Linked DNA regions of Homo sapiens: region 1 is reported to be linked to region 2. The links are microRNA targets in miRTarBase. Many come from high-throughput screens and were not tested one by one. Region 2 holds a microRNA gene; the other region holds the end of a gene's coding sequence.
What was found. The annotated mature microRNA hsa-miR-1267 reads CCUGUUGAAGUGUAAUCCCCA and lies in region 2 at 1,439-1,459, opposite strand. An mRNA with a match to its seed (bases 2 to 7 or 8) in the 3' UTR can be bound and repressed. Matches are read on the target gene's strand: a 7mer-m8 pairs with bases 2 to 8, a 7mer-A1 pairs with bases 2 to 7 and ends in A, and an 8mer does both.

Region 1: miRTarBase lists PTPN2 as a target of hsa-miR-1267. Seed matches in the 3' UTR shown: 7mer-A1 at 2,612-2,618.

Annotation. Positions count from the first base shown.
Region 1 is chr18:12,790,935-12,794,934 of GRCh38, reverse strand. It overlaps PTPN2 (protein tyrosine phosphatase non-receptor type 2), which reads left to right. Exons shown (of 9, transcript NM_002828.4): 9 at 450-2,783. The coding sequence ends at 657. Among named protein-coding and RNA genes, the nearest start is that of LINC01882, 44 kb to the right of the region's middle.
Region 2 is chr13:107,529,779-107,533,930 of GRCh38, forward strand. MIR1267 (microRNA 1267) reads right to left here and starts at 1,470; the gene lies at 1,393-1,470. The region is part of intron 1 of NALF1 (NALCN channel auxiliary factor 1); the gene reads right to left. LOC112268110 (a long non-coding RNA gene) reads right to left here. Exons shown (of 3, transcript XR_002957493.2): 1 at 1-4,152.

The DNA.
Region 1 (4,000 bases), not on the chromosome of region 2:
GAGGCTTTTCTTGGCCGGGCGCCGTGGCTCACACCTGTAATCTCAGGACTTTGGGAGGCCAAGGCGGGTGAATTGCTTGAGGTCAGGAGTTCAAGACCAGCCTGGCCAACATGGCAAAACCCTGTCTCTACTAAAAATACAAAAAATTAGCTGGGCATAGTGGTGCACGCCTGCAGTCTCAGTTACTTGGGAGGCTGAGGCACGAGAATCACTTGAGCGTGGGAGGCAGAGGTTGCAGTGAACCAAGATTGTACCACTGCACTCCAGGCTGGGTGACAGAGCAAGACGCTGTCTCAAAAGAATATTGAGGCTTTTCCCCTCATTATTCCAGTGTTCAAATAGGGTGAAAACTATGTGGATGGTTTTATTTGCGCCTAGGTCCTCTGTGTTAGAGTACTCAAGTCCTGCTCTGTGTGCACTTCCTTTCACTTGTTTTTATTTCCTCATAGTGCTCTACGGAAACGTATTCGAGAGGACAGAAAGGCCACCACAGCTCAGAAGGTGCAGCAGATGAAACAGAGGCTAAATGAGAATGAACGAAAAAGAAAAAGGTGGTTATATTGGCAACCTATTCTCACTAAGATGGGGTTTATGTCAGTCATTTTGGTTGGCGCTTTTGTTGGCTGGACACTGTTTTTTCAGCAAAATGCCCTATAAACAATTAATTTTGCCCAGCAAGCTTCTGCACTAGTAACTGACAGTGCTACATTAATCATAGGGGTTTGTCTGCAGCAAACGCCTCATATCCCAAAAACGGTGCAGTAGAATAGACATCAACCAGATAAGTGATATTTACAGTCACAAGCCCAACATCTCAGGACTCTTGACTGCAGGTTCCTCTGAACCCCAAACTGTAAATGGCTGTCTAAAATAAAGACATTCATGTTTGTTAAAAACTGGTAAATTTTGCAACTGTATTCATACATGTCAAACACAGTATTTCACCTGACCAACATTGAGATATCCTTTATCACAGGATTTGTTTTTGGAGGCTATCTGGATTTTAACCTGCACTTGATATAAGCAATAAATATTGTGGTTTTATCTACGTTATTGGAAAGAAAATGACATTTAAATAATGTGTGTAATGTATAATGTACTATTGACATGGGCATCAACACTTTTATTCTTAAGCATTTCAGGGTAAATATATTTTATAAGTATCTATTTAATCTTTTGTAGTTAACTGTACTTTTTAAGAGCTCAATTTGAAAAATCTGTTACTAAAAAAATAAATTGTATGTCGATTGAATTGTACTGGATACATTTTCCATTTTTCTAAAGAGAAGTTTGATATGAGCAGTTAGAAGTTGGAATAAGCAATTTCTACTATATATTGCATTTCTTTTATGTTTTACAGTTTTCCCCATTTTAAAAAGAAAAGCAAACAAAGAAACAAAAGTTTTTCCTAAAAATATCTTTGAAGGAAAATTCTCCTTACTGGGATAGTCAGGTAAACAGTTGGTCAAGACTTTGTAAAGAAATTGGTTTCTGTAAATCCCATTATTGATATGTTTATTTTTCATGAAAATTTCAATGTAGTTGGGGTAGATTATGATTTAGGAAGCAAAAGTAAGAAGCAGCATTTTATGATTCATAATTTCAGTTTACTAGACTGAAGTTTTGAAGTAAACACTTTTCAGTTTCTTTCTACTTCAATAAATAGTATGATTATATGCAAACCTTACATTGTCATTTTAACTTAATGAATATTTTTTAAAGCAAACTGTTTAATGAATTTAACTGCTCATTTGAATGCTAGCTTTCCTCAGATTTCAACATTCCATTCAGTGTTTAATTTGTCTTACTTAAACTTGAAATTGTTGTTACAAATTTAATTGCTAGGAGGCATGGATAGCATACATTATTATGGATAGCATACCTTATTTCAGTGGTTTTCAAACTATGCTCATTGGATGTCCAGGTGGGTCAAGAGGTTACTTTCAACCACAGCATCTCTGCCTTGTCTCTTTATATGCCACATAAGATTTCTGCATAAGGCTTAAGTATTTTAAAGGGGGCAGTTATCATTTAAAAACAGTTTGGTCGGGCGCGGTGGCTCATGCCTGTAATCCCAGCACTTTGGGAGGCTGAAGTGGGCAGATCACCTGAGGTCAGGAGTTCAAGACCAGCCTGGCCAACGTGGTGAAACACCATCTCTACTAAAAATGCAAAAATTAGCTGGGCATGGTGGAGGGCACCTGTAATCTCAGCTACTCAGGAGGCTGAGGTAGGAGAATTGCTTGAACCCAGGAGATGGAGGTTGCAGTGAGCTGAGATCACGTCACTGCACTCCAGCCAGGGCGACAGAGCGAGACTCCATCTCAAAAGAAACAAACAAAAAAAACAGTTTGGGCCGGGTGTGGTGGCTCACGCTTGTAATCCCAGCACTTCGGAAGGCCAAGGCGGGCGGATCACGAGGTCAAGAGATGGAGACTGTCCTGGCCAACATGGTGAAATCCCTTCTTTACTAAAAATACAAAAATTATCTGGGCGTGGTGGTGCATGCCTGTAGTCCCAGCTCCTTGGGAGGCTAAGGCAGGAGAATCACTTGAACCCGGGAGGCAGAGGTTGCAGTGAGCCGAGATTGCACCACTGCACTCCAGCCTGGCAACAGAGCAAGACTTCGTCTCAAAAAAAAAAAAAAAAAAAGTTTGAAAACCATTGGTATAGATAGATATTTTGAATTGATTTGCATAGTCTCCTTGAATGTGTTAAATTATGTTGAAAGTATGAAAGCAGGATGTAGGTGGTACTACATATTAAATAAGATTTATATAACATGTGCCTGTGTCCTGATTCAGTATTACTGTGTCCTGTAACCTTGAAATGGAGAGGAGGTAAGAGGGACATTTTTTTATGTCTGTCTGCATTAAACCTGTGTTGAGGCATCCAAGACCCTTACATTTCAGGTTGTTATTGGTTTAAAACCTCTTTCCAGTTTGCATTGGTTTGTCTTTGCTAAATGCAGTATGTTTATGTTACTCTGCAAGTCACATACAGGTAGACCTTATGACATTTCCAGTTGAAACTAGGCTTGCTTTCGGTACACAGGTGAAGACTTGAGGAAGCCAGTGCCAGAGAGGACGTGCCTCACCCCTCAGCTGGCTGAATGCGCTTCATTGGCTTACGCTTTGCTTTCTGTATGCTTTCTGTCCTTCTGGGTGGTGTCGCATATATTTTTAAAACCACATTCAGTGTGATGAACACTTGTTGGTACACTTCTAAGGTTAGTCATCTTTCCTTCTCTGAGCAGATCCTTGAGAAGGGCATTGACAGTGGATGCTTTAAATAGTGTTCAGTTTTTACCAGTAATAATATTTTTTGGTGGATGTCATGAAAACACATGACATCGTGTTGTGCCCATGATAAAAAGTCCTGACTTTTTATTGAATGAGGTGTGCTGGTCAAAGAGACAGACGTGGCTGCCTTCTCTGGTAACAGCCAGAGGAAAAAGTTAGCAATTCTAGATGGGTTCTACAGCTTTAAAAAACTTGTTGTATCCTTAGGTCCTCATAATATTAAATATTTTCTAATTTTAACAGATTTTAAGAGTCAGATATATACTTTGACTTGAATGATGTAGTGTTGCTTAAGGAAGAAAAAATTATAAAAAAAATGTTTCTTTTATTTTCAGGAGTTTTTAATTCATATCTAGTTCATTTCCACTCATATCTATTTCTGCTAATAGATTGACAGCAACCTTTGGTTTAATGCTGTGTTCTCTAGCTACACCAACAAGTTATATATTCCTTTCCAATATTAACCAAGTATTTATTTTATGTTAGCCTATGACTGAGTTTTATCTATGCTTGCACATATATAGAATGTAAAAATATAATTCTCCATGTTTAATGTATCCATATAAAAATGAAAATACCCATTTTCTGCATTCTTAAAGGGTTAAGAAAAGTAACATGTAATAAGCACATGGAGGACTTTAGACCATTTCTTGTGTTAGAGGAGACTTTATACATTTGTGAGGTTTTCTGTCTTTTGG
Region 2 (4,152 bases):
ACCTGAAGGAAAGGATGATGTCTCAGGACTTTCTAAGAGCAACAGAATGTTGGAAACTATCCATGGTAGGGATGCAGTTGGCTAGTTACAATGCTTGACATCCCTTCATCTAGTGGCCATGGGACTCCAAGGTATCTTTCCATAAAGAACCAAAGCCAAACTCACAATCTGCCTAAACTGCTATTCTCAGCTTTCAAGAGGAAGATGACTGTTAATACCCAAGAGTAAGAATAAGAAGCAAGGGTTCTATAGCTAACTCATGCCTTCTTTCCACAGCTCACTCTTATTCAGCAATATGGGCTCCCTTAGCTCCAACCCTCAAATCCCCACCTGGGCACCTTTACCTTGTTCTCTCTCCACCCTGGGACACTCTCTCCTGCCTATTAATGAGGCAGGCTCAGTCTTATGCTTTATAGCTCAGTCATCTACTTAAGGAGGCCTAAAAGCTCTGTCCAAAGACAAAACCTCCATCCTAGCAAGATAGTCTGCCTTTGTTTACTTCATAGCATATATCCCAATCCATAATTATTTTTATATTTGTTTCCTATTTACTACCTATATCCACCACTAGCATGGATACTTTTAAGCTACTTGATCATCTACTATATCCCCAGAGCCATGAAAACATCATACATAGTAAGTGCTCAGCAAATTACTTGCTGAATGAATGAAGTATATCCATATAGACTGAAGCAAAATCTAAGACATTCCTCTAAATTTAATATTTGTAAGATTTTTTTTAAATGACAAGATTTTTATGTATGACCTGTGATCATTTTAGTATATTCATAACATGTGGATGTATGCAGAAGATGGACTCATTCCACACAAAAATGCCATTGTACAAATACTATCTGTTGAGGCAGCCCAGCAGGTACTACATGACAAATAGGAGGCAAAAATAATATTGCAAATCACCACAGCTATAGAGAAAACATAGTATCACTTACATCATATTGATGTAAGCTGAAATCTGTCCAGAGCTGAGGCTAATCATTTGTGAAAAGCAGCTGACAATATAGAAAGAACAAGCATCTAAGTTATATATGAACTATTTTCACCATTCTCCTTATAAAGTTTTAAAAATAATATGAAAACCAGCAGGATTGCCTGAAATGTGAAAAGAACACTGACGATTTTTATTGTGATTTTTAGTGGAAACATTTTAGTTATGTAAAAACTGTTAAAGGGATAGTCTTTGTACCCTAAAAAAGAACTCTGCTGAACATTGTCATTCACATATATATATATATATACATCTGAGATATTTTATTAGGATGCATTCCTATATTAGGAATTACAGAACTAAAGAGGATGGACTTTTAACATATATTTTAACATAGCTCTCCAGAAATAAAAAGTTCTTGACCACTGATGGAGTCCGGATATTTGTCCTCATCCAAATCTCATGTTGAAATGTAATCCCCAATGCTGGAGGTGGGGATTACACTTCAACAGGAGATTTGGGAGGTATTTGGATCACGGAGGCAGATCCCTCATGAATAGCTTGGGCCATCCTCTTGGTGATGAGTGAGCTCTTCTTCTGAGTGTATGGCACCTTACCCCCAACTCTCTCTCTTTTGTTCTGGCTCTGGTCACGTGACAAAGACTGTTCCTTCTTCACCTTTCACCATGATTGTAAGCTCCTGAGGACTCCCCAGAAGCCGAGCAGATGCCAGAACCATGGGTCCTATAAAGCCTGAAGAATCATGAGCCAATTAAACCTCTTTGTTTTATAAATTATGCAATCACAGGTATTCCTTTATAGCAATGCAAGAATGGTCTAATATAATCAGTGACACTAATCATCAATATTATCTTATTAATTTTCCCAGTTTATTCAACATCAAAACCAGTACATTTTAGTTAAACTCACATTAAATGTTTGTATTTTTTTCATTTTATGAGTTGTCTGTCTGTATTTTTTTCCACTTTTATCTCAGTATGCTCATCTTCTTTTGTTGTTGTTTGACTGGAATACGTGTTGCAAGTAATTTTTCCAGCTTCTCATTTGCATCTTTTTTATGATGGTGTTAGATATGCCAAAGTTTTGTGTCATGTGAAGTATTATCTACTGATACTCCCCTTAGAATTTTTAAAAATTAATTTTATGCTTATAAACTTCTCTGCCATTTTGCAATCTTCTATTTACGTATTTGTTTTCTAGATGACTAACATGGCTTTTTCACAATCAAGTTCATAACGCAGCTGAATTTGCATACTTACCTAACTTGAAAATTTTCTCTCAAATAGTGAGTTATCCTAGAAGCATTTAATAGAAAATGCTTTGTTTCTTAACTGACTTACAAGCTACCCTTTTGTATACTAAATCCTTTGATGTGCTAGGTTCTCCTCCAAGTTTCTTGCAGACAACCAAGAACAAAATGAAAGAGAAAGAAAGTGAACAAAAGTAGAGTTTAAAAAGCTACAGCCTTTCAAGGTCAACATTTTAAAGTAAAACAGCATCTTTTTCTTTGAAATCTTATGGATTCCCACAGTGTAAAACATGCTTCTATCTAATAATCAGTATTAAAGAATCTATTAAGAAATTTCAATGATTTTTGTTTCCCTTGGCTGAGCTCTCATTATGGACTGTTTTGCTGCTTCCTTTCTCTATGAAGAAAAATCATTCATTGCTAGTGTTTTCTCAGTGTTACAATGCTTTTCCAATAAGCGTTCATTCTAGTGGTGTGTGCTTCCTCATCAACAAACATGAAATTTATCTTCTTAAATATCAAGAGTTCAGGTTATTACAAAACCTAAGGCTTACAGTGTGGTATAGTCCAAAATCATACTCCATAAACTACTGGAAAATTAATCAAATTATATTACATGAAGTTTTTATATACTCATATCTTTTGACTTGAGGTATTTCAAATATTTGAGAATCTCTTATAGACCTCATTTCAACTTTAATTTTTCTGTCTCATGTGTTTGGTCCATTTATGTGATTTGCCTGGGACATTAATGAAATTCTCAAGAATGTTAATTTTCAGAAAATATAAATCCCTGAAAAGTTAGCAATTTAGAGATTATTCAGGAATATAATTTTGTGCTAGTTTCTAACGTAATATTGCAATTATATTAACTGAAGACAAAATATTGCCACCTAGACTTCAAAAAACATCTTAAAGGTAGTTGCAGAACTGTTAAGAAAACAACCTAAAAACAGTAGCCATTAACATATTAAAAATGATATAAAAATTAAGAATACATGCTAAGCTGGAAATTTAAAACATCATTTAGAAACCAGACACTTTGACTGGAGGCAGCTGTTGCCTCTCTTTTTGACTTAAACTTTTATTTAACTCATTCTACTAAAATTAATATCCCCACGAAAAGAGAGTTATAACCATAACTTTTAATGAGGCTCAGTTTTGCCCCTTTCTTTTTTCTCTGTTTTACATATTTTGTTTGTAAAGTGACTGTTAGAAACATTTATAGAAATTTACACATTTGAAATGCAGAGTGCTATAATTACGTGAGTGTAGGTTCTTTGCTATGGTTTGAATGTCAGATCCTCCAAAATTCATGTTAAAACCAAATCACCACAGTGACAGCATTGAAAGACAGGGCCCCTGGAAGGTGATTAGGTCATGAGGCTCCTTCACCATAAATGGATAAGGCCCTTCTGAAAAGGGCTTTCAGGTCTCTGCCATGAGAGGACACAGCCTTCCTCCCCTACAGAGGAGGCAGCCCTCATCCAACAACCGAACATGCCTGCACCTTGATCTTGGACTTCCCTGCCTTTTGAATGGTAAGAAAATAAATTTCTGTTCTTTATAAAGTACACAGTGTATGGTATTTTGCTACAGCAGCACAAACAAATGAAGATATTCTTTAATAACTGTTCAAATTAGAGATTCTGTGAATCACATAATTACCAGGAAAGGACTTGAGGAAGTATTCCAAAGGCCATCTTTCAGAAAACAAAACAAAACACACTCTCCAACAAAGCAACACCCCCAAATCTGTCTTTTGTTGAGGGTCTGTGATGCCTAACATGACACCATCCAGGATCATGTCTTCCGTTAAGGTCTCAGGAAAAGCTCAATACTTCTAAGGGAGTGTCTTTGTCATTGAACATAGGTAAAATCAGTTCTACAAACTGTTTGAAAATATAGAGTTAACATTAATGGGAAATGGGGAGGG